Regions from separate parts of the Homo sapiens genome. Here regions 2, 3, 4, 5 and 6 are each linked to region 1. The links come from fine-mapping of genetic effects on gene expression. A gene starts in region 1. Each other region holds a variant in brackets. All regions are shown on one strand. Distances are from middle to middle. Region 1 holds the start of PLB1 (phospholipase B1). Region 2 overlaps PLB1 (phospholipase B1). Region 3 overlaps PLB1 (phospholipase B1). Region 4 has its middle 23 kb from the start of PLB1. Region 5 overlaps PPP1CB (protein phosphatase 1 catalytic subunit beta). Region 6 overlaps PLB1 (phospholipase B1).

Region 1 (4,087 bases):
TTCCACCCCACCTCCAGCTGGCCTGCACATGAGTGGGGACCTTGGCCTATTCAGCCCAGGCAAGTTCAGTGATGCTCCTCAAAGCTGCTGGTGGCATGGAGCTGGGTAAACTCCTGACATCCTTAGTGGGACAGCAGCTCTGGCTTCTCATTGAACTTGGGGGCAGTTTGGTGAAGTTGACAAGTGTCTACATATCCAGGGGCATCTGTGCTCACTTGTCCCCCACAGACCTTGGCCTTGGGTGTATTTTCTTCTTCCTTTTCTGTGTGTCTGTGTGTGCTGCCCTCTTCTAGGCTCTGGAACTAGCTGATGGCCAGCTGGACTAAGTGTGTCAGTGTCCACACACCTCTGGCATGTCCCAATACCCCCCTACAGTCCTGAGGCTTAGGCTAAGCCTTTGGCATTGGCTAAATCAGTGGTGACCCACAAGTCACATATTTTCTGAGCAGTTGAGAAAGGGAGACAACATCCTAAAACCAGAGATTCAGGAACAAAGGGCCACTCACTTCGTCTTCACTTTCTACTCAAGACAATAGAGGTTATAACAGTAATTAAAAACAATTTTTTTTTAATTGAGATGGAATCTTGCTCTTGTCCAGGCTGGAGTGCAGTGGTGCAATCATAGCTCACTGCAACCTTGAACTCTTGGGCTCAAGCAATCCTCTTGCCTCAGCCTCCCAAGTACCTGGGACTACAGGTGCATGCCACCATGCCTGGCTAATTTATTTTTATTTTTTGTAGAGATGGAGTTGCCCAGGCTGGTTTTCAAACTCCTGGGTTCAAATAATCCTCCTTCTTTAGCCTTCCAAAGTGCTGGGATCACAGGTGTGAGCCACTGTGTCTGGCTGTGATTTTTAAATATGAGAAAAGTGGGTCAGCCAGGAGATCAGAATCTGAGGTTGGGTCATGGGAACCAGCCCTAGAGTCTTAGCTAGACCTCAGAAGTCAGGATCCCAGCCTCACACCCACAAGCATGGCCAGAAAGCAAGGATAATTTAAATATATTTGTTCCTATCAACCAAGGCAATTGTTTCTTGATATTTGTGTAAAAAATTTAAATTCTACTCTCAAGGGTATTTGTCACTCAGGCTTTAAATGCCAGCTTTGTCTGCCCAGTTTAGACCCAGCCTGCATTCCTGACTTAGTTTACCCAAAGGAAACGGCTGATTTTGTCAAACTTGGTTCCCCCTCTCTGGCTTGTATCTCTGAATTCAACATGCAGACAACAAATCTATGGTGTGCACATCCACCCAACACAACTGGCCACCCATGGGTTTGGAGATGGGGGGAACAGAACAAACCTCTCTGTGTCATGCAAACCAGGGAACCTAGCAGAGCTTCTGAGACACGGTGGGAACACGTTTCACATTTGGAGGTAGGTTTATGGTTTACATTTGTTACAAGGTACTTTTGATCTCCTGGCTTACAACTGAGAAAGCTGAGGCCACGTTAAGGGATACACCCAAGTTCCCACAGCTGTGGTTGATTTGGAATTCCGACCAGCACCTGGGATTCCCAGGCCCACGTTCTTCCCAGCAGACCCGAACACCGGCAATTTCTGGGCACCCACCATCATGGAAGGCTGTATGGAGGCAGCTATGCGGCCCTGGTCTGTCAGTGTCTATGACTAGAACATGCTACCCATCATTGACTCATCTGCCTTAAGAACTCTTCCGCCTAAGTGTTAATATTTATCATTTACAGCCCGCCACTACCCCCTTTCAAAGGTGAACACAGTAAAATTTATGACAGGTGCTCTATCAGAACACAGAGGAACATAAAAGCAGGAGGAGGTGTGATAGCCCATCCATCTGCTGGAGCAGCTCTTCCAGAGGCCCGAGTCACCTGGAGCATTCTGGCATGGGGCTGCGGCCAGGCATTTTCCTCCTGGAGCTGCTGCTGCTTCTGGGGCAAGGTAAGCGTGCCTTTTGCTCAGAGGACAACCAGTGGTTTAGCCCCGCTGGTGTCCCATGTTGCTTAGGCAATGGGTGTGTGAGAGGAGTGTGTGCTTTTGAAGAGATAAAGCACAAAGCGTACAGTTCAAGAATAAGAAGTCTGGTTTGCCTCCTGCGGAATGGGATGCAGAGGCTGCCTACACAGGGTTACATGTCCCAAAGGCTGCCGGGAGCGAGGCAGATCTTGGGACAGGAGAGAAGTGCAGTCCGGTAGCAGTACCATGGTACAAAAAAAACCCCTGGATTCTATTTGTTTGTGCTTTGTGGCTTTGGGCAAGTTCTTCCACCTCCCTGGACCTTGATTTTTTTCATCCTTAAAATGGAAATACTACTACTATGCACATTTTGATCATTACTATTACCATTTATGAGCTTTGTTTTGTTTTTGAAGGACAAAGGAAGACAGATTTCCAGATGATAAATTCTAAAAGATTGCCTACATTCTTTAGTGCTGCTAAACAGAGTGCTGAGCTTTCATTGAACTGAGTGGGCAACCAGCCAGGGCTTTCCATTCCCCCCAACATTAATGACTGTGGGTAGATTGTGCCTCTGCCACAATCCCTCTCTGCCCCTCTTCTTCCCATCATTGGCTCTCCCTTTGCTTAGGAAGGCAGAATCTTTTAAACTGAAAAGGGCCTTAAAGATCTTTCATCTTCTCCAGATGAGAGGACGGGGTCTGGAGTGAGAAGGCACTTGCCCTTGACTCCCCAGAGAGAGTGGAGGAGGCATGGGACAGAGTCCTGGGCCTGCCTAGGGTCTGAGCCCATGCTTGAGGCTTCTCTGGGGCAAGTCAGTTACCGCTCTGAGCCGTGGGGGAGAATGACGATGCTTGCTATGCCTTCTGCACAGGATGATTGTATTTCTTTGATTACTGATGAGGCCAAGGAGTGTTTTCATAGAGATTGTTTGAGTTTCTCTTTTGTGAAGTGCCTGTTGAAGTCTTTTTCCTATTGATTTTTTAGGAGTTCTCCATATATGCTGTGTACTAGCTCTTTGGAGGTTACATATATGACAAATATCTTGTTCCACTCTGAAGCTTGTCCTCCTATGGGGACTTTTGATGAGCAAAATTCTTAATTTTGTGTAAATAAATGTAGACTACCCAAATGAGGACAAACAGAGGCTACTTATTCAGAGCTCGCTGTAGCGAGACATCACTTATGTTTGGCCAAGATTCAAAGGCAGGCAGGGGAGTGGGAAAGTTTCACAGTGGAAAAAAGGGAAATCTTCAGATCTGCTCTGGTTGGAGGTTGTTGGTATCAGGGACCAGCTGACTAGAGGCACGGCATCTGAAGTTATCCAGTTGGGAGTGTATCTGGCTTTCTCTGAGGGGTCCTGAGTTGGAAGCAGAGCAAAAAATAGAGAAGATGGCAGTCATTAACCAAACCTGACCATTCTGGGCTGATTGCTGCAGAGGCTGCAGTTTGGTTCTCTGGCCTGGCCGATTGCAGACTGTGGCTCAGAGTTCTGTTATCATATGTGGTCCCACCGTTGTCCATTTGTATATTCTCTATTTTTTTTTTTTTTGAGACAGAGTCTGGCTGTGTCACCCAGGCTGGAGTGCAGTGGCTTGGTCTCAGCTTACCGCAACCTCTGCCCTCCAGGTTCAAGCAATTCCCCTGCCTCAGCCTCCTGAGTAGCTGGGATTACAGGTGCCTGCCGCCGTGCCTGGCTAATTTTTGTATTTTTAGTAGAGACAGGGTTTCACCATGTTGGCCAGGCTGGTCTCAAACTCCTAATCTTAAGTGATCTGCCTGCCTCGGCCTCCCAGAGAGCTGGGATTACAGGTGTGAGCCACCGTGCCCGGCCTTTATTCTTAAGTATATGTATTTTAAATCTTCCTTTATGGTTTGTGCTCTTTGTATCTTAAATAACTCCTCTCCTACCTCGAGGTCATGAAGATATCTTATATTTCCTTCTAAAAGCTTTATAAATTTACTTTTCTCGTTTAAGTCAATCACCCTACATCTGGGATTGACTTTTATGAATAGTATATGAGAGGAACCCAATGTTGTTATTATTATTTCTTTTTGAGATAGAGTCTCACTCTGTCACCTAGGCTGGAGGGCAGTGGTGCAATTATGGCTTATTGTAGCTTCAACCTCCCAGGCTCAAGTAATCCTCCCACCTCA
Region 2 (4,087 bases), 53 kb after region 1:
CAGCACTTTGGGAGTCCGAGGCAGGAGGAATGCTTAAGGCCAGGAATTTGAGAACAGCCTGGGCAACATGGCAAAAACCCTGCCTCTACTACAATACAAGAAATTAGCTGGGTATGGTGTCACACACCTATAGTCCCAGCTACTCGGGAAGCTGAGGTGGGAGAATCACCGGAGCTCAGGAAGTCAAGGCTGCAATGAACTGTGATCGCACCACTGCACTCCAATCTGAGCAATGAGAATGAGACCCTGTCTCCAAAAAAAAAAAAAAGAAAAAAAAAAAATTGGGGAAGAGAAGGTGGCAAGACAGATCAGCACCTGGCCCTCACCCAGGCCTGCTCAATACTTCCTTTGACAGCCGCCTTGAATGTTCCAGGTGGGACCTTGTTTCTAGGAGCGGCCACCATCAGAATAAAACAGAAAGAAGCGTGGAGTCCATTTCCTCTCCTAGGCCTTGAGCTAGAGAGTTGCCACTCCTTTTCCAAATGTTCAGCTAATTATACCTCCTTATCTGATTCTCTTTCAGTCTGGCTGAAGAGCCAATTCCACTAAGGGTAAAGTTCTTTTCTTGTTTCTTGCTTATTGGGGCACAGATGCTGGGGTAAGATACCGCTGAGGAATCTGAAAATCCTCATGGAGGTTGGTAGAAGCTGTGACTGAGCCAGACAGGCTGCCCCATCCAGTAGCTTCCCACGTTCCTTGGCAGAGTCATTGGAAGGGGAGGTGAGGGCCAGAGGTACGACCAGAGCCCAGCACCTGTGGGCAGCCAGATGACAGTAAAACTGGTTCTCCAACAGTAGGAAATAGCCCGTGCAGAAGAAAATCTGCAATCCCTCCAAGCTATTGCATTTTTCTTTGTAAGTGTTTATATATGTATAATGAACATTTAAAAATAACAAAAACAACTTTTAAAAAAAATCCCTCCTTCCCTCTAATTCTTTAACGGCCTTCACTTCCCTATGTCTAATGCTTTACTAAGTTGATAATCTGCTGGTTTCTCCTGCTGTTATACTATAAATGTTTTATCTACGTTATTAGATGTCATTTGATGGCCTTCGTGGTTGTCATTTAAGTAGCTGCCTATTTCACAGCGGATACCACACCACCCACTCCTGGCTCACTAGATACTCTAGCGGTTTGTGAGTGTTGGCTGTGCTGTGTTCCATGTCACTGTATTTGTGACCCCGTGAAAGACATGAGACTTGACCCAGGCCCCATAACTTGCTTCACTCAAAGCTGTGAAAGCAGTTCTCAGGGAACAGAGGGTTTCCATTCTCTATTGTGCGCAGATTTACCTACATTTGGGTTGTGGACACAGGCTGCGGGGAGGACTTGGGAAAGAATACATGCTTTATGTAAAAAGCGATGCATTTGCCCTTCCTTCCCATACTGGCTCTCCTGTCTAAGGGAACTTGAATCAGTGAGCCAGAAAGTAGCTGGGCAGCAAGGAGGGGACAAGAAGCCAAGCTGGATAACCGGCCCCCACGTGATCAGAAAGCTGTGTGACCCATTGCTAGATGTTTGGTTGGATGCAGGACACCAATGTTGGAGTCCCAGCTCTGTCCTGGCTGGCTGGGCCCCACCTCAACCTCTGCTGTGCAGCTTTTCCTTCTAGGAGAGGTAGACTAGGAAGTCCCTTCTATATATATATATATAAAACCGATGCTGCTTCTCATGCTGTGGTTCTCAAACTCGGGTGTGCATCAGAATCGCCTGGAGAGCTGCTTACAACACAGACTGCTGCCCCAGCCCCAGAGTCTCAGACTCAGTAGTTTGGGGATGGGGGCTGGACACGTGCATTTCTAATGCGTTCCCTGGTACTGCTGCTGGACTAATGAGTCTTTCTCACTGGTGACTTGGCAGGCTGCTACCTGCACAAAACTTCCCTGTTCTAAAGCCCACGTTCCTTTCTAGATGGAGCCAGCAGGAGAGAAAGATGAGCCATTGAGTGTAAAACACGGGAGGCCAATGAAGTGTCCCTCTCAGGTAGGAGGGACTGGGCAGAGGAGGGACTCTTATTGAATCGAGGGCGCAGGTGGGGTGGCCAAGTGGGCTTTGCTGTGAAGTGGGTCTTACCTGAGATGTGAATCCTGTTTCTGTTCTTCTGGGCCTGCACACAGTTTTGCATACATAGCAGCCCTAATGTTTACAGTTGTGGGCCATGAGAGCTGTTCTAGCAAAACTGCAGCCCCCTCCATGCCTGTGGAAGGCATAGGAACAAGGCCACAGCTCAC[C/G]TGGCCCCAAATGCTGCCTCTGGGTCCTGGCCCTCTGCCCCAGATGCCATTTCCAGACCTTCCTCTACCTCAGAGTGGCAAAGAAGGGAGGGATGGTGAGTATCTAAGTACCTGAAAAGTGGATCATTTTGACTACATCTTAAATATGTGCCTAGTATGTAGTAGGCTTATAATTAATGTTTCCAAATAAGTGGATGAGAAAATAACTGGACATAAATGAATGAGATTCTTTCTTTTTTTTTTTTTTTTTTTTTTGAGACGGAGTCTCGCCCTGTTGCCAGGCTGGAGTGCAGTGGCACAATCTTGGCTCACTGCAACCTCTGCCTCCCGGGTTCAAGCGATTCTCCTGCCTCAGCCTCCCAAGTGGCTGGGACTACAGGCACGTGCCACCACACCCAGCTAATTTTTTTGTATTTTTAGTCTTTCTATCATTTAATGCTAGTCAAGTATTTGGCTTTCTTGATGAATTGGTAAGTTTTTTGTTACTATGCAATAATAAGTATACAATTCACCTTCTTGCACTTTTTGCTTTGGCTGCCAAGAAGCTTAAAATTAGATTCCCTTCTCATCAAAATATATATACTTAGCCTGGTAGCATGAACCCCCAGGGTAAAGAGCAAGAGAGACTGGCTATCACAAATGGGAAATGTCAACGCATTCATGAGTCCTTCAGGGACCAGAGAGAAGAGCCAGAGAATGGTTTGGTCCTCACTGGAAGCGTGATGTGAATGTTCCTAGTTGGCCAAAAGCATCACTGGATGCTGAAGCCTGATAATTAAGGGATACAGACTTCTAGGGTCACGATTCCAACATGTCACCTTTCCCTGCAGGAGAGCCCCTATCTGTTCAGCTACAGAAACAGCAACTACCTGACCAGACTGCAGAAACCCCAAGACAAGCTTGAGGTAAGGAAAGGTTTTCTGTAATTGACAAACATGCAGATGAACCAGGGGCTGTACTTCTTGCTGAATCTTTCGAACCTTCCACGTGGTTTTTTTTTTTTTTTCTTTTGAGATGGAGTCTCACTCTGTTGCCCAGGCTGGAGTTCAGTGGTGCCATCTCGGCTCACTGCCACCTCCACCTCCTGGGTTCAAGCAGTTCTCCTGCCTCAGCTTCCTGAGTAGCTGGGGCTACAGGCGCACACCACCATGCCTGGCTAATTTTTGTATTTTTTTTAGTGGAGACGGGGTTTCACCATGTTAGCCAGGCTGGTCTTGAAATCCTGACCTCAAGCAATCTGCCTGCCTCAGCCTCCCGAAGTGCTGGGATTACAGATGTGAGCCACGGCGCCCAGCCTGGATTATTTTAAAGCAGATCAACTGGCCAGATTTGCAACCTCAATACAATTTTTTTTTTTTTTTTTTGGTGGGAGGAGGGCGGGGACAGAATCTCGCTATGTCATCCAGGCTGGAGTGCAATGGTGTGATCTCAGCTCACTGTAACCTTAGCCTCCTGGGTTCAAGCGATTCTCCTGCCTCAGCCTCCTGAGTAGCTGGGATTATAGGCGCGCAACACCACACCCGGCTATTTTTTTGTATTTTTAGTAGAGACAGGGTTTCACCATGTTGGCCAGGCTGGTCTCGAACTCCTGACCTCATGGTCCACCCAACTCAGCCTCCCAAAGTGCTGAGGTGACAGATGTGAGCCACTACGCCCAGCCATTCCATGTGGTTCTTAACATCCTGGAACTCCCGCTGCCCCTAGGCATATGGAGGTCTGCTACTAACCGCTGATGTTCAGTCAGGACAGGCTGGGGGAGGGAGAAGGATCCAGCATGTGGCCATCCCCTGGGTGCCTGGAAGCAGGTCTCCCCCACAGTTCATCTTCCGAGCTGCCTCCGCAACCAGCATGGGAGG
Region 3 (4,087 bases), 100 kb after region 1:
ATCTTCAAATCCTGGATTCGGTAGGGAACCAATATGTTAGGGGCTTAAAAATTTTCTCAGAATTCCTCAAACTCAGAGATGGGTCTGGCCCATCTCAAAGGTGCCGATGGGCACTAAGAAGGGTGGGGGCTGCTCTTGTGTAAAGTTCCTAGATTGATTCAACCAATATGTCTCTCCCTCTCATTCACTGGCTTGCTCACTCCCTACAGTGCAGGAGGGGACGGCTCCCTGGAGAATGTGACCACCTTACCTAGTAAGTAACCATCAGGGGCTTGAATCTGTCTACTGTTCCACCCATCTGGCCCCTTGGCTTCCCGAAAGTGCCTCCCAGGTAAGCAGCAAATGACATCTGCCTTATGGCCCAGCATTTAAGTAGGAGACAGGAGGCTATGAAAAAGCAGCCGAGGCAGGTAAAATAAACACCAGATTTAGAGCCTGAAGATCTGAGTTCAATCCCTGGTGCTTCAATCCCTGGTGCTGGGTTCAATCTCCGATGTGCTTGTCAGGTGACCTAGGGCAAGTTACCCGCTATTTTTAGCCTCAGGCTTTTCCAACAGGCCCAGGAGGTGCTGAGACAAATTAGGTAGTGACCCTTCAATGCACTGTGAATTGTATTAATACAATTTAATACAAGAGTGAGAGGCTCTTGCCACCCTGGCCCACCTAGTCATCAGGTCATGTCAACTTAGGGTGGTCCCAGCTTATGTCCAGGACACACACTGCCTCCCTGCCTCTCCCCAGGAAGCATGAGGATGATAACACAGCCCACTTTGGGGACCTAGGTCCCACAGTACCAGAGAAGCTATTCTGGCTTTCTGTTCTGAGCCGTCTGCATCCCATTCACCTTCTCTTCCAGATATCCTTCGGGAGTTTAACAGAAACCTCACAGGCTACGCCGTGGGCACGGGTGATGCCAATGACACGAATGCATTCCTCAATCAAGCTGTTCCCGGAGCAAAGGCTGAGTATGGCATTTGGGGAGGGAGGGAGCCTGCAGAGCAGGGAGTGGAATGTGGATAGTACCCTTTAAGACCATGGGGCTGGCCTCTATGTGCAAAGGGGCACTTAGCCACTTGTGAGGCTCAGGCTGCCCTCTTCCCTGCTGCCCCTGTGACGAAGGTTGTAATAGGCCAGAGAGGCTGTGGCCTTGGAGAGATGCGATGCCCCTATAGGTTCAACTCCTGACCTTGCCTTCATGTGCAGCATGTTCTCATAATTGGACGAATCGACTAACCTTATCCAATGTTTACAACTCACCAAGGCACAACAGTGCTAGAGAGATCCACTCCCCGCAGAACCTCACAAGTGGCAATTTCCCAAAAAGATCAGAGAGGGCCAACCAAATGGATGGGGCAAGCCTTCTGGCCCTAGAGGCATCTGGAGCAAAGAGTCATGTCCCCTCCCTAGCCCCATTATGGAGCTAACAAGAAATGGAATGGAGAAGCCCAGAGGTACCCAAAGAAGAGCAACTGCCCAGCCTCCTGGGGTGGGCTCCAAAGGGGCCCCCACCCTGCTCCTAGAGGCCCCAGCAGCCTAGGTCTTCTTGCTCTATGCAGCTCCTGGCTCAGCCATCTGAGCCTCTGTCACATGTCATCTTCTTGCTCAGGCCCACACCTTCTGGTTGAGGGGTGTGGCCCCCAGACCCACTCCCTCAGCCTGGAAAGACTCTTGGTAATAGAAACAGCTGGGGACAGATGGTCCCACCACCGTGTCCTAGGAGATCACCTTGCTATGGATCCATCCCACCCAGGTCTATAACGGGGCCCTGAACAAGTGGAAGTGGGGAGCACAGACGCCTGAAATCTATTCCTTCCATAAATTATAATTTTGGCCTTTTTTTAGATAGAGTCTCATTCTATCACTCAGGCTGGAATGCAGTGGCACAATCTCTGCTCACGGTAACCTCCGCCTCCCAGGTTCAAGTGATTCTTGTGCCTCAGCCTCCGAGTAGCTGGGATTACAGGCTTCTACCATCA[C/T]GCCCAGCTAATTTTTGTATTTTTAGTAGAGATAGGATTTCACCTGTTGGCCAGGCTGGTCTCAAACTCCTGACCTCAAGTGATCCACCCACCTTGCCTCCCAAAGTACTTGGATTACAGGCATGAGCCACTGCACCTGGCCTTTTTTTGTTTTTAAGATGGGGTTTCACTCTGTCACCTAGGCTGAGTGCTATGGCATGATCTCAGTTCACTGCAACCTTCACCTCCCAGGTTTAAGCAATCATCCCACCTCAGCCTCCCTAGTAGTTGGGACTACAGGCATGTACCACTATACCTGGCTAATTTTTCTGTAATTTTTGTAGAGATGGGGTTTTACCATGTTGCCCAGGTTGGTCTCAACCTCCTGGACTCAAGCAATCCACCCACCTCAGCCTCCCAAAGTGCTGGGATTACAGGCGTGAGCCACCAGGCCTGCCACCTTCCATAAATTATAAACCCAAGCATGTGTAGAGCACATATGATTCCCTACCTCTTTTTGAAAGAACCATTTAGATAAGTTTACAAACAAAAGAATATACGTAAGAGAAAAATCGCAGCCATTGGAGGAAATAAAGAGGAAGCCTGTGTGTCGATATGAACATTTTTACGGTTATTATGTTTGAGCATCAAACTCAGCTTCCTGGCAGCCAGAGTGAAAAGAGGAAGCATGCTAGAAGTTTCATAGGTCTAATTTTAGGATCTAAACTAGTCTTCCAAAGGAGATGAATGGTCTCTTAGCATGGAATCCTAAAGGCCCTTTTGCATGTGGAGTCCCAGAAAGGTGACCATGAGCAACAAATATAATTGGCAGTACTTTGACTACAGCTGTAGGACAAACACATCATTGGCTTTTCAAATGATTATCTGTTGTAATAACTTTCCAGAAGAGGCAAGTCACTCCTGGTTTCTGAGCCTCGGGATCTCTGCCAGCTCATGCAGTGGGGATGATACTGTAGAAGCCTCTGGTTCAGGCCCTCTAGGAGGAAAACTATGGGCACTGTTCCTCAACAGAAGGATGGGTTTTCTCTCTTTCTCAGGGATCTTATGAGCCAAGTCCAAACTCTGATGCAGAAGATGAAAGATGATCATGTGAGTCAGATTTACTGTTATTTCTAAACATTAATTTTCTAACCCACTAAAGTTGTCTCCAAACGGAGTGGCCTGCTCTGAAAAGCAGTGAGCCCCATGTTATTAGAGGCATTCAAGCAGTGGTCGGACAGCCCCCTGACAGAGGTCCTGTGGAGGAGGGTATGTCAATGGAGAGAGCTTTGTTGCTGGGTACAGCGACACTGAAAATCCCTCCTGATGCTAAGAGTCTGTGGTCTATAAATAAACCTCTAAAATTCCTTCAGTTCAGAGATGCTGATTCCATTATTTCAAGTGGGCAAGGATGTTATAGAGGGTTGAATGGATTTCCTAGGGCAGGGATATTTTCATTTCCTTGTTGGAAATTATCAAGCATTTTCCTCCCTCCATATAGAGAGTAAATTTCCATGAAGACTGGAAGGTCATCACAGTGCTGATCGGAGGCAGCGATTTATGTGACTACTGCACAGATTCGGTAATTGGGGCCAGGTCCAGGCCTACTTGTTGTTCCTAACTTTGCCCAGTAGGCGTTGGAGATCTTCCCTGAGAACAGTTCCTAAAACCAATCCTAGGATTATCCACCTACACCTATGTCTGCACATATACACATACCACACACACACACACACACACACACACACACTTCTTACCCCACCACCCTCCAGGTCCTTGGCACCATCTCCATGTCCTAGGTGGTGAGGTAGCAGGTGGCAGATATATGGTATTTCTACTCCTCTCTCTTATAACTCCTGAGAATTCAGAAAGAGGAAACTGTAGCAAGCAATTGGAAGGAGGAGTCTCCACTTTCTGCTCCTGAACCAAAGCTCTGGCTGAAGGTTCCAGTCTTCCCACTGGCCCATCTTTGACAACAGCAAGTAGTCAACTGTTCATCTCAGATTTTGACATGGTGAGCTGGCCACAGCTGGAGGCTAGAGGGGGAACAAGTCCTCAGGGCTGGAGCCAGAAGGGAAGTTGAGAACTGCCCCACTGCCCTCCCACCCTAACCAGTTCCTCCTTTTCCTCCT
Region 4 (4,087 bases), 23 kb before region 1:
ATGTGGCCACCACAGTGTTCTCAGGGATGAACTGCCTAGAAAGGCTTGTCCCAGGCTGAAGGTCCAGCTGGCAGAGCCCAGGGAGAAGCCCAAGGGCACCCATCATGCCAGCGAAGAGAGCAAGAGGCCAGCTGTGAGGGTGACAGGAAGAGGGAGAAAGGAGTTTGTGAACGGTTCAGGTAGGAGATGACCCTTTATCGATTTGGTTGTGGGGATGGAGAAGGGTGAGGTGTGATAAAAGCTGCAGTGCAATGCTTGGATCCTTCCCACAGCCCCCGCCCTGGCCAGGATGTGCTGTGTGTCTGTGTATCCAGGCATCCTAGTTAGGGCTGAAGGGACCCTCCTCGGGGAACATGTTCCTACAGGATGACATCTGTCCAATGTGGTTTTGGACCTGTGGTGCTGGCTGGTCCTGGGCCCAGGTCTGTGGGCCTGGATGGAATGAAGCAGCCACACCTGTGTCACCCCATCTCTGGGAAGCCCCACCCCACCTGGTCAGACATGCCAGGCCAACCCCATACCCATCTTGTCATACCTGAGCTCCATGCCGCTGCCCCAGCTCCTCCAGCAAGGGCACATCACCCTTTCAAGGCCTCCTCCAATCTCCCCTCCCCAGGCAGCTGCCCCCAGAGTCCCACTTGCACTTGGTGCCTCTGTGTACATTTCCATGCACTTTCCTGTTATGTTTCTAGACTTTATTATTTTCTGAGTACGTTCATCTTATCTCTCCAGAGATGATGAGATCCTTGAGGGCAGGCATCACATCTTGTCTCTTTTTTGTCTTCCACATAACACCTAAAATGGGTTTGGCTCACTGAAGGCCCAACACTCACAGAATGTTGAATGAATAGGAATTTCCTTCCACCCACACATGGGCCCTGTGGCTTTGGGGGTGTGACCCCAAAACATGCCCATGGGATGTGGTGAGATATAAGTGAAGACAGGGGCCCAGGGAGGATATAAGTGAAGACAGGGGCAGGGACGTCTCCTCCATGATGGTGCTCTGGAATGATGCTCAGCAGGGGAGGGACCTTGGTGATGATCTCTTCCTCTTTACTGATGGACAAATAAAAGTCCCAGTGAGAGGTGACAGCGTGCTGGCAGCCCTGGCAGCCCTCAGCTCATTCTTGGTGCCTCCTTGGCCTTGGTGCCCACTCTGGCCACGCTTGAGGAGCCCTTCAGCCTGCCGCTGCACTGTGAGAGCCCCTTCCTGGGATGGCCGAGGCCGGAGCTGGCTCCCTCAGCCTGCAGGGAGGTGTGGAGGGAGAGGCATGGGCGGGAACCCGGGCTGCACGGCGCTTGTGGGCCAGCTAGAATTCTGGGTGGGCGTGGGCTTGGCGGGCCCCGCTGGCCCCGGGCAGTGAGGGGCTTAGCACCTGGGCCAGCAGCTGCTGTGCTCAATTTCTCTCCGGGCCTTAGCTTCCTCCCTGCAGGGCAGGGCTCGGGACATGCAGCCCGCCATGCCTGAGCCTCGCCACTCCCCCACCATGGGCTCCTGCGTGGCCTGAGCCTCCCCATCGAGCACCGCCCCTTGCTCCATGGCACCCAGTCCCATTGACCGCCCAAGGGCTGAGGAGTGTGGGCACATGGCG[C/T]GGGACTGGCAGGCAGCTCCACCTGCGGCCCCAGTGCAGGATCCACTGGGTGAAGCCAGCTGGGCTCCTGAGTCTGGTGGGGACTTGGAGAATCTTTATGTCTAGCTAAGGGATTGTAAATACACCAATCAGCACTCTATATCTAGCTCAAGGTTTGTAAACACACCAATCAGCACCCTGTGTCTAGCTCAGGGTTTGTGAATGCGCCAATCAGCACTCTGTATCTAGTTAATCTGGTGGGGACTTGGAGAACCTTTATGTCTAGTTAAGGGATTGTGAAGGCACCAATCAGCACTCTGTATCTAGCTCAAGGTTTGTAAATGCACCAATCAGCACTCTGTGTCTAGCTCAGGGTTTGTAAATACACGAATTGACACTCTGTATCTGGCTAATCTAGTGGGGACCGTGGAGAACTTTTGTGTCTAGCTCAGGGATTGTAAATGCACCAATCAGCACCCTGTCAAAACAGACCAATCAGCTCTCTGTAAAATGGACCAATCAGCAGGATGTGGGTGGGGCCAGATAAGAGAATAAAAGCAGGCTGCCCAACCCAGCAGTGGCAACCTGCTGGGGTCCCCTTCCACACTGTGGAAGCTTTGTTCTTTCGCTCTTTGCAATAAATCTTGCTACTGCTCACTCTTTGGGTCCACACTGCCTTTATGAGCTGTAACACTCACCGTGAAGGTCTGCAGCTTCACTCCTGAAGCCAGCAAGACGACGAAGCCACTGGGAGGAAGGAACAACTCCAGACATGCTGCCTTAAGAGCTGTAACACTCACCGCAAAGGTCTGCAGCTTCACTCCTGAGTCAGCGAGACCATGAACCCACCAGAAGGAAGAAACTCCGAACACATCCGAACATCAGAAGGAACAAACTCCGGACACGCCGCCTTTAAGAACTGTAACACTCACCGCGAGGGTCCGCGGCTTCATTCCTGAAGTCAGTGAGACCAAGAACCCACCAATTCCAGACACACCAGAGTGGTGGCTGGGCACATTGGCTCATGCCTATAATCCCAGCACTTTGGGAGGCCAAGGTGGGAGGGTCACATGAGACCAGGAGTTCAAGACCAGCTTGAGCAAAACATAGCAAGAGCCCATCTCTAAAAAAAAAAAATTTTTTTTAATTAGCCAGGCATGATGGTGTGTGCCTGTAGTACCAGTTACGCTGGAGGCTGAGGCGGGAGAATCACTTGAGCCCAGGCTCAAGGCTGCAGTGCGTTGATGGTGCCACTGCACTCCAGCCTGGATGACAGAGTGAGACTCTGTCTCTTAAAAAAAAAAATTCCAGATTGGAAATAGGTGCCCAGGGACACTGAGCTGAGGCTCTAGGGATCCCACTAAGGTCAGCAATTTTTATTTTATTTTTATTTATTGAGAAAACCCAATTTTCCAGGCCTCATATCCTTGACTTTTCAGCAGTATTCTCTATTTTAAAAACATACTTCTCTCCCTGACACAAACCTTTTACTTCTCCAATCAGTTTTTCCTCTGTCTGCACTGTAGGATTTTTTCTTATCTGCCCAGCTATTAAATATCATTAAGAGTTCCCCAGGCCCTTCCCTTCCCCCTTGTTCTCTCTCCTAGCAGGCTCTGCTGCCACAGCTTGAGTGACTGCATCTGACTCTTAGCCACTCTGGCCCAGAGTTCTCATCTGAGTTTCTGATCCATGGGTCTACCTGCCCCTCCGGCATCTCTTGAGTGTGTGTCCTAAAGGCACTGCATGCTGCTTGTGTCCACATCTGCATTGATGATTTCCCTCTGCATTCTTCCAAAATTCCCATGCCCAGTGATCCCTATGCAGGGAATGAAGTGCATCCATTCCAGTGCAAAGGTCAGAGATCTTTCGTTACCTACACACATCATCCATCAGTTTCACTTCCTGAACATCTCCTTACCCACTGTGTCTGGAATTGGTTCCTGCTGGTGGGTTCGTGGTCTGGCCGACTTCAAGAATGAAGCCGGGGACCTTCGCAGTGAGTGTTACAGCTCTTAAAGATGGCACAGACCCAAAGAGTGAGCGGTAGCAAGGTTTATTGTGAAGAGTGAAAGAACAAAGCTTCCACAGCATGGAAGGGGACCCAAGTGGGTTGCTGCTGCTGGCTGGGGTGGCCAGCTTTTATTCCCTTATTGTCCCCTCCTATGTTCCATTTCTGTCCTATCAGAGTGCCTTTTTTCAATCCTCCCCGTGATTGGCTACTTTTAGAATCCTTTCCCTTATTGGCCCCAAACTGGTGCTTTAGCTGCAAAGTGCTGATTGGTGTGTTTTACAGAGCGCTGATTGGTGCATTTTATGGAGTGCTGATTGGTGCATTTTACAATCCTCTTGTGAGACAGGGAAGTTCCCTAAGTCCCCACTCAACCCCGGAAGTCCAGCTGGCCTCACCTCCCACCACCTTCCTCCTTCTCCACCACCATGAGCCTCCTTCAGCTCTGGCTTGGAGAGTGACAGCCTCCTGACTGGGCTCCTGGCTCTGTCCTTATCTCCCAGCCTTC
Region 5 (4,087 bases), 290 kb after region 1:
ATTTGTCAGAAATTCTATGTATTTATGATGTACAACATGATGTTTTGAAGTATATATACATTGCAGAATGGTTAAATCCCGCTGATTTAACATATGCATTACCTCAAAAAGTTAGCATTTTGGGAGAAAACAACACTTAAAATTTACTCTTAGCATTTTACAAAGATACAATATAGTGTTAACTGTAGTCACTGTTATACAATCGATCTTCTGTATTTATTCCTACTACCCAACTGATACTTTGTATTCTTTGACCAACATCTTCCCATCCCACCCCTACCCCCAGCACAATCTTTGAAGTCTTGGTAACTTTACTGAAGGTATTGAATGTTTATTGTAGTTGTTGCCTTTTTGAAAGTACGTAAATAACATCTTTGCATTGTAGAAAAAGTTCTTCTTTATAGATAAACATGAAGAAATGAAGAAAATTGAAATCATTCATAATCCTGCGGCTTTGAGATAACTGATGAGAACAGTTTTAGATTTTTTAATTTATTCTATCTGTTCTTTTTACAGGCAAACGAAGATTTAATATTAAATTGTGGAAGACCTTCACTGATTGTTTTAACTGTCTGCCTATAGCAGCCATTGTGGATGAGAAGATCTTCTGTTGTCATGGAGGTAGACTAGTAAATTTGCCTTACAGATTTTTTTTTTCTTCTATTATTCGGAAAATACCTATAATAATCAAGAGGCTGTGGGAAAACAAAGCAGTGCTTGTATGAAAACTCAAGTGATTAAAACTGTTTTAAACATGGCTAAACCTCTTTTAAAAATTAGAAATTTATTTATAAATGAAAACGTAATGCTTCTTTAAATACAGTTTCACATATAAGGAGTGTAACTAGAGTTGTTTGAGAAAGTCTCCTTTGCCTCAAGTTTTAACAGAAAGACACCCCTGCTATTTATTAGTAAAAATGAGAGGATATCTTCCTGCCTATATTGAAATCTTTCATCAGAATCCAAATAAAATTGAGTTTCATATTCACATATATCAAGAATTCTAGGCTTCATATAATATATTTGCTTTAGTATTAACAATAAAATAATAAAATAATCTTTGGCAGATTGGTAGGTTACTCTGTATGGCTTATGAAATAAGCTTGAAGTTTTTTGAAAGTTTATTTGAAAAATTAATGTATATGTCTAACACCTAGCTAGTAGATAGTGTATGATCTGACCATCTTGAAGAGTTAAAAACCTGTTGCTAAGATACATTTATGAAACAGATAATTGAGTAATAAAAGGTATTTAATATGTCAGAACTTATTAAGACACTATGAGAAGTCAGGAGGAGGAAAGACTGGGTACATGTGTGTATGGAGGCATGGGTTTTAGAGGATAAATAGGCTTTGGAGAAGTTAAAAGGACTTGAGACACTCTTTGTTGTCTAGTTTAGGGAATGTGTAAGAACTGGCCTGACTAGAAGGTCAAGTACATGCTGGGAAATGATGGAATCAGATTATGGAGATTTGACTATTGAGCAACGGAGTTTGTTGAGTGATTTAATAACCGTATTGGGTTTTTGTACAGGGAAGTAATTTAATGGAAATAGTGTAAGAAAATTAGTTTTTCATCAATATACGGGAAGAATTAAAGTGGAAAAACGCTGAAAAGATAGATGCACTTGCCTAGGCCC[G/A]AGGTAATAAATGGTTTATTCTCTGGCAGAACATAATTCACTATATTAATTGAAATATGTTTTCCAGTAGACATTAAACACGTAATGAATTGTAGTTCTTGTACATTAGTGTAGCTAAGGATAGAAGTGTAGCAGTATGGATACGAATGTTTAGCTTCATTCCTTGTGATGATACTTGGATTGCCTATCAGAGAGAAATAATAGCTTATATACCACTTCAAAGATTGCAGAGTATTTTTATGAGCTTTTCCTGTTAATCCTTCTGATCAATAGTTTATGACTTCATGAAGATAATGAACATGTTGGAGTGGGATGTGAAAAGAAGGTCTTAGGGAACCAAGTGAGGCACTTTCACTTAGAAGTTAAAATGTTTAAGATTAGTGGTAAGAACTGGCAAAAGTGGTAGGAAGGGTTGCAGTTGATTATGTTTCTATGAAGGCCAGGGAATGATTGGAAAAAAGAATGGTAGTTTTTTTTTTCCTTGGGAAGTCTTTTGAAATATAAAGGAATTTCATTTCCCTGGTAGGGAAAAATGGAAAAAAACAATTATAATGCTGTATTATATCAAAGTGGAATTCCTAATAACTCTGTGTTGCCCTTTAAGACATTAAAAGGGGCAGGGCGCGGTGGCCCACGCCTGTAATCTCAGCACTTTGGGAGGCCAAGGTGGTTGGATCATGAGGTCAAGAGATCGAGACCAGCCTGGCCAACATGGTGAAACCCCGTCTCTACTAAAAATACAAAAAATTAGCTGGATGTGGTGGCGCGCGTCTGTAGTCCCAGCTACTCGGGAGACTGAGGCAGGAGAATCGCTCGAACCCGGGAGGTGGAGGTTGCAGTGAGCTGAGATCACGCTACTGCACTGCAGCCTGGGTGACAGAGTAAGATTCTGTCTCGAAAAAAAAAAAAGACGTTAAAAGGAACACTTTTCAGTATCTTTAATTTCACATAGTGAATCTATTTTGATTAAATGCTTTTTATTCGGTGACTGTTAAAATATTAAAATTTTTAGCTGTTAGTACTATGTCTCATCTTTTTATTTATAGGATTGTCACCAGACCTGCAATCTATGGAGCAGATTCGGAGAATTATGAGACCTACTGATGTCCCTGATACAGGTAAGTGTAGAGAGAAGTTTAATTGTTTTGTGTAAAGTGTTTTCATATTTGAACTTGATTACATTTAGTGGAAGTAGGATTGGCTTATGTAATAAATAAAAGAGCTTTTTTCATAGTCAATAAGCCAGCTACAGATTACTTTATTTGCAGTAATACACAATTTTTCACTTTGCACTGATCCTCAAAATGCGGAACCTTTTTATTTATAGTCATAATGTAGTTATTTGATCACAAAAAAGATTTTGCTGTTGAGTCCTTATACCTATTTTTCTAAATTCCCTCATTCATACTAGCATTGGTTATGTTCTTCAAAAATTTGTTAAATTAGACAAAAGTTTTTTAATTAAAATAATCTATTCTTTGCTTCTTAGGCAAGGATACAACTACCTTCTTTTCAAATGTCTAGTAGTTTTTTGTTATTTTCTATGTCCTCTATTTGAAATTTTTAGAGCTTTTTTTCAAGGGGGTGTGGGAGGGATTTCAATCTGTTGCCCAGGCTGGCCTTGAATTCCTAGGCTCAAGCAATCCTCCTGCCTCTTCTGAGTAGCTAGGGGACTCCAGGCATGTGCCATACCTGGCTTAAATTTTTAGAGCTCTTAAGGCTCTAGAGACCTGTGGTCAGTTTTGTGAAAATTACATTGGAAATCTCTGGGAAGGCTGGGAGCAGTGGCACTCACGCCTGTAGTCCCAGCGCTTTGGGAGGCTGAGGTGGGCAGGATCACTTGAGGTCGGGAGTTCCAGACCAGCCTGGCCAACGTGATGAAACCCCATCTCTACTAAAAATAACAAAAATTAGCTGGGCATGGTGGTGCGTTCCTGTAATCCTAGCTACTCAAGAGGCTGAGGCACGAGAATTGCTTGAACCTGGGAGACAGAGGTTGCAGTGAGCCGAGATCACACCACTGCACTCCAGCCTGGGTGACAGAGTGAAACTGTCTCAAAAAAAAAAAAAAAAAGAAAAAAGAAACAACAATCACCACAAAAAATGCTGCTCAGAACTACACATCAACCATTATAAATGGTATAGATCCTCTGATGTCAGTAGCCATGTAATACACTGTATGTTGTAATAAATTGTGTTAGGAGCTTTTTTTTTTTTTTTTTTTTTTTTTTTTGAGACAGAGTCTTGCCCTGTCACCAGGCTGGGGGGCAGTGGTGCAACCTCGGCTCACTGCAAGCTCTGCATCCCGGGTTCAAGTGATTCTTCTGCCTCAGCCTCCCGAGTAGCTGGGACTACAGGCGCCCGCCACCACACCCGGCCAATTTTTTGTATTTTTAGTAGAGATGGGGTTTCACCATGTTGGCCAGGATGGTCTCGATCTCTTGATCT
Region 6 (4,087 bases), 110 kb after region 1:
GTCCTGGCTGTCCCCACACTGGAGATGCCCTCACCTCCTGGTCTGGCCCACATGCAGTGGTGATGCCTCAGGGTCTTTGTGACTTGGTCTATCCATGTGTCCAAGTCTGTAAAGGAGGACTTCTGCCAGAACGTCCCCTTCCAGAGGCTGGAGCCATGACTCCCCTGTTACCCAACTTCAAGGTGCCTGGCAGGAACTTCTATGATACCAGGCAGCCACAGAGGGGAGGGATCAAAGTTGGGACAGAGGCTGGTGTTTGAGAGACAGGATAGCCTAGACTGTGAACATGGGCAGTGGTTAGGGAAGTAGACATATGTGGTCAAACTGTAACAGAAAGCAAGGAAAAGGTACAAGCAACTCAGTTACCTTTAGGGGAAGAAGAGAATTAGGAGGGACACAGGGAGCTTCAAACTGGGAGTGTTTTGTTTCTTAAACTGGGCCATAAGTACATGGATGTGTGTTTTATTATTCTTTATATCTTACACATCTATTTACTCAGCAAATCTTACAGAACTTCCTGTGTACCAGGCATTGTTTCAAGTGCTTTAGAAATCTCTCTCTTAAGTAGATGTGATGGGTGTGAAATAATTCATGATGAAACCAAAGGGGACACAGTAGGGCACTCATGTGAAAGAAGGAGAGGTCTAAGGCATAGCATCAGAGGCCCCAAAATATCAGCTCCAACACCAGAGGATGCATTTTCTTTTTAATTAAACACTAAATTTTCACTGCCCAAATTCATTTGCTCAGCTGAATAATCGGTTGCAGGCCCAGCACCTGCAGTCCAACACTTGTGCTCTGTTGGTATGAGAGGGTGCTCATTCCCACACTGGCTCCCTCCCTCGGGCCATCTCCAGTGCCCCTGCCAGGCCTGAAGCCTGCCCCTGAGCATGTGCGCCAGAGCCTCAAGGCTTGAGTGCTCCTAAACCAGGGCGGGAGGGAGCCTCTCCACCCCTCCCCTGAACCTGGGCAATCAGAACCAGCCCCTGATGGAAGCCTGAGCTCTGGGGCCTCCTGCCTCCCCCTCTTTGTGCAGCGTTTTGTGTAACTGCGTTCTGACCCTGCGGGAGAACTCCCAAGAGCTAGCCAGGCTGGAGGCCTTCAGCCGAGCCTACCGGGTAAGACCAAGAAGGGCACCATGCTGTGTCCTCTCCCCTACGTTCACTCTAACACACAGCCCAGAGCCCCTAGAGGAGGCACACAGGGAAGGAAAAGCTGGTCAGGGATTGTGGGGAGACGGGGAGCAGCCTGGGTGCCTTCCTCTGTCTCACGTGACTGTGGTGTCTCAGGTGCCCTGGTTGGAATCATCCCAGTAGGATCCAGGTGGAAAAGCCCTCATGGCCCAGCTACCGTTGAGGGCTTAACCCCAACTCCTGGCCCGTAGCCCTGGATGCCTCATGAGACCACCTTTCCCTCCCCCACTCCCACTCCAAAGGCAGGTGCCGAGCCTCTGGAGGTTCTTCCCAGGTTTTTATCCCTTTTGGGACTTCCTGCCTAGCCCTTCAGAGAGAGTAGTCTACTTACAATCAAAACAAAAAGGTGACCCAACCTGTTTCCAAATTCTCTGGAAAGGGACTTGCCCTCAGGTGATTTGTGTTCTCAAGGGAAAGGCTGAGTCGGCCCCTCCATCCAGGGAGATGGACTGCCCACCACCCCTACTCTTGCCTCACTGGGTCCTGGGCCCACCCAGGGCCTGGGCTGAAGACCCTGTGCATGTGTCCCCAGAGCAGCATGCGCGAGCTGGTGGGGTCAGGCCGCTATGACACGCAGGAGGACTTCTCTGTGGTGCTGCAGCCCTTCTTCCAGAACATCCAGCTCCCTGTCCTGG[C/T]GGTATGTCCCCTGCCCTCACCCATGGTACTCTTTTAGAGGAAGAAATGCAAGGCAGAATTGCCAGTTGCTTCCACGAGCATGTGCATAAAATGGGAAAGACACAGCTCTCCAGACGCTGTGCTGGCAGGTGCAGGCTCCCTGAACGCCTGAGCCACATCCGTATGTGCGAGGCTCCCATGACCCCTGTAACAGCCTCCATTGTGTTGAGCACCTACTAGTGCCAGGCACTGTGCTTCCCATAGATAAAACTGTCACATCTGCCTTTGGAAATGAGTGTGATCATCCGCATGGAACACAGGTGCAGAGATGTGAAGCGTCCTTCCTAAGATCATTTAGGAAATAAGGGACAGGGAGGCCAACATGAACACAGCCAGCTCCAGATGACTAGTTTTCTGCCACGCACGTGGTCTCTCTCGTGTGCAACGCTGCGGTTATAAGGGAGCATTCTGGGGGTTCTCTGTTTCCACCCAGGCCATGCCCTTTGCCTGGCACTTCCACTCTGAACAGAAGAGATCTGTGAGTGGACCAGGTGAGGACTGAGGTCTGTCCCCCTGGGCTGCCATCCCAAGAGCCTCACCTAACTGGAAAGCAGGAAGGAGAGCAGCTCTATGCACCCCCAGCACCTCCAGATGAAGAGGCTGGAGTCAGGGGACCCAACTACCCAGGCCTTCCCCAAGGCTTTGTTCCATTCTCCCCACCAAGACTACCAGGACCAGCAGACCAAAAGCTGGGAAGTAGCTTTTCCCAGCTGGCTGGGCTAAGACTCTCTGCGGGACCAGGATCCCACTCCTTCATCTGTGGCATGGCCTCGGGCATTACATGAATGTGCCCAAAAATAAATACGACACTTCTAATTGAATAAGGGGCACTTGTAGGGTCAAAAAGGAAGGTTGGGGGTTGGCGTCACCCAAAACTATTCTTTGTGGGATCGCTCTGATCTCTCTGTTAAGGTGAATGGGCCCTGTGGTGGCTGGTGACCTGGAGCACTCCAGGGGAAGGAAGGTGTTGAGTGGTCAGTCCCAGGGCCAAGTCCGCTGGTGGTGGCTCCCTCTGAACCAATAGGATCTTGAGGGGGTATATTGGTCTCTTTCAGGATGGGCTCCCAGATACGTCCTTCTTTGCCCCAGACTGCATCCACCCAAATCAGAAATTCCACTCCCAGCTGGCCAGAGCCCTTTGGACCAATATGGTAAAATAAGTGGGGTGTTCCTTGTTCTCTGGGGTTCTAGTCTAGGGCAGGGCACCAGCCCCTATAGAATGGAGTCTTGCAAGTGAGGCTGAGGGGGCAGTGGCTGGTACATCTATAAACGTCTATGCAGTTGGAAATGCGGAGTCCTTAAGAGTCTGCTCAGCCTGGGCTCAACTGCACCCTCTCCTCAGAGCTTTGAACTCTGAGGAGGGACCTCTCTACAGAAATGCAAGCCCAAAACCCCATATTCATTCCACTTTCCCTATGTGCCGGCCACCATGTTAGGCAGTTTAAGCCACGTTATCTCATTTAAGGCTCTGCATATCCCTGCTAGAGAAGCATGACGAGTCTCCAAGGAAGCTACTCCCAGAGAAGCAAAGCGACTGGCCCAAAACCCCACGGCTGGCAACTGGCAGAGCCAGAAGTGGGAGCCAAGCCCCCTGAAATCGAGTTCTGAGCTTTCCCCACTGCAGGATTCTGCCAGGGAATGTTCACTTCCATGGAAACAAACTACTACACCCGTGTCTCTCTTTTCTTCCCTGATCAGCTTGAACCACTTGGAAGCAAAACAGAGACCCTGGACCTGAGAGCAGAGATGCCCATCACCTGTCCCACTCAGGTAGTAGGGGAGGACCTGCCTGGCTCCTCTCCACAAACCAGGGCACACAGCTCGCCCTACCCACTTCGTCCTCCACCACAGCTTCCTCAGTACCCATCTTGCCCCCTTACTGAGGCCTGAGAGATTTGGAGGATGGAGGGGAGTCCATGAGGATGGACAGGGGAGGTGAGAGGGGAGACAAGAGTGCAGCTGTCATTGGGAACAGGAGATGCAGCAGGGAGAGGAGGCCTGGGCCCCAGCAGAGGGAGAGGATCCCGGTGAGAAAAGTGGGCTCCTGAGAGAGGAAATCAGGATGCCAGGAAAATGGCAGGAGGGCTTCTCTTAGCAGTGGTGTTTGGGGCAGATGAAAAAATCTGACTGCAGGTTAGAGGGCCCAGGCAGGAGCCAGGCAGGCTTAAGAGCTGTGGTTGGAGAGAGGAGAGCCTGGATTAGGGAGATTCCACAAGGAA

What was found. PIP is the estimated chance that this variant, and not a neighbour inherited with it, causes the effect.
Region 2: its variant is the best candidate, but not a certain one, in a credible set for the expression of PLB1 in nasal epithelium (TOPMed, PIP 0.54).
Region 3: its variant is the best candidate, but not a certain one, in a credible set for the expression of PLB1 in monocytes (TOPMed, PIP 0.57).
Region 4: its variant is the best candidate, but not a certain one, in a credible set for the expression of PLB1 in whole blood (INTERVAL, PIP 0.78).
Region 5: its variant is the best candidate, but not a certain one, in a credible set for the expression of PLB1 in whole blood (INTERVAL, PIP 0.73).
Region 6: its variant is the best candidate, but not a certain one, in a credible set for the expression of PLB1 in monocytes (TOPMed, PIP 0.88).

What each region holds. Positions count from the first base shown.
Region 1 is chr2:28,494,255-28,498,341 of GRCh38, forward strand. PLB1 (phospholipase B1) reads left to right here and starts at 1,806. Exons shown (of 58, transcript NM_153021.5): 1 at 1,806-1,915. The coding sequence starts at 1,861.
Region 2 is chr2:28,546,949-28,551,035 of GRCh38, forward strand. PLB1 (phospholipase B1) reads left to right here. Exons shown (of 58, transcript NM_153021.5): 15 at 1,912-1,983; 16 at 3,062-3,136. Among named protein-coding and RNA genes, the nearest start is that of PLB1, 53 kb to the left of the region's middle. RefSeq lists an enhancer at 3,454-3,748 and a silencer at 3,510-3,710. The variant C/G (reference allele first, on the strand shown) is at 2,232.
Region 3 is chr2:28,597,796-28,601,882 of GRCh38, forward strand. PLB1 (phospholipase B1) reads left to right here. Exons shown (of 58, transcript NM_153021.5): 34 at 210-253; 35 at 857-965; 36 at 3,014-3,065; 37 at 3,457-3,537. Among named protein-coding and RNA genes, the nearest start is that of PLB1, 100 kb to the left of the region's middle. The variant C/T (reference allele first, on the strand shown) is at 1,977.
Region 4 is chr2:28,471,435-28,475,521 of GRCh38, forward strand. No RefSeq gene overlaps it. Among named protein-coding and RNA genes, the nearest start is that of PLB1, 23 kb to the right of the region's middle. The variant C/T (reference allele first, on the strand shown) is at 1,593.
Region 5 is chr2:28,781,222-28,785,308 of GRCh38, forward strand. PPP1CB (protein phosphatase 1 catalytic subunit beta) reads left to right here. Exons shown (of 8, transcript NM_002709.3): 4 at 517-621; 5 at 2,686-2,757. Among named protein-coding and RNA genes, the nearest start is that of SPDYA, 28 kb to the right of the region's middle. The variant G/A (reference allele first, on the strand shown) is at 1,640.
Region 6 is chr2:28,602,930-28,607,016 of GRCh38, forward strand. PLB1 (phospholipase B1) reads left to right here. Exons shown (of 58, transcript NM_153021.5): 40 at 1,037-1,118; 41 at 1,726-1,830; 42 at 2,924-3,019; 43 at 3,567-3,638. Among named protein-coding and RNA genes, the nearest start is that of PLB1, 110 kb to the left of the region's middle. RefSeq lists enhancers at 3,348-3,979, 3,980-4,087. The variant C/T (reference allele first, on the strand shown) is at 1,829.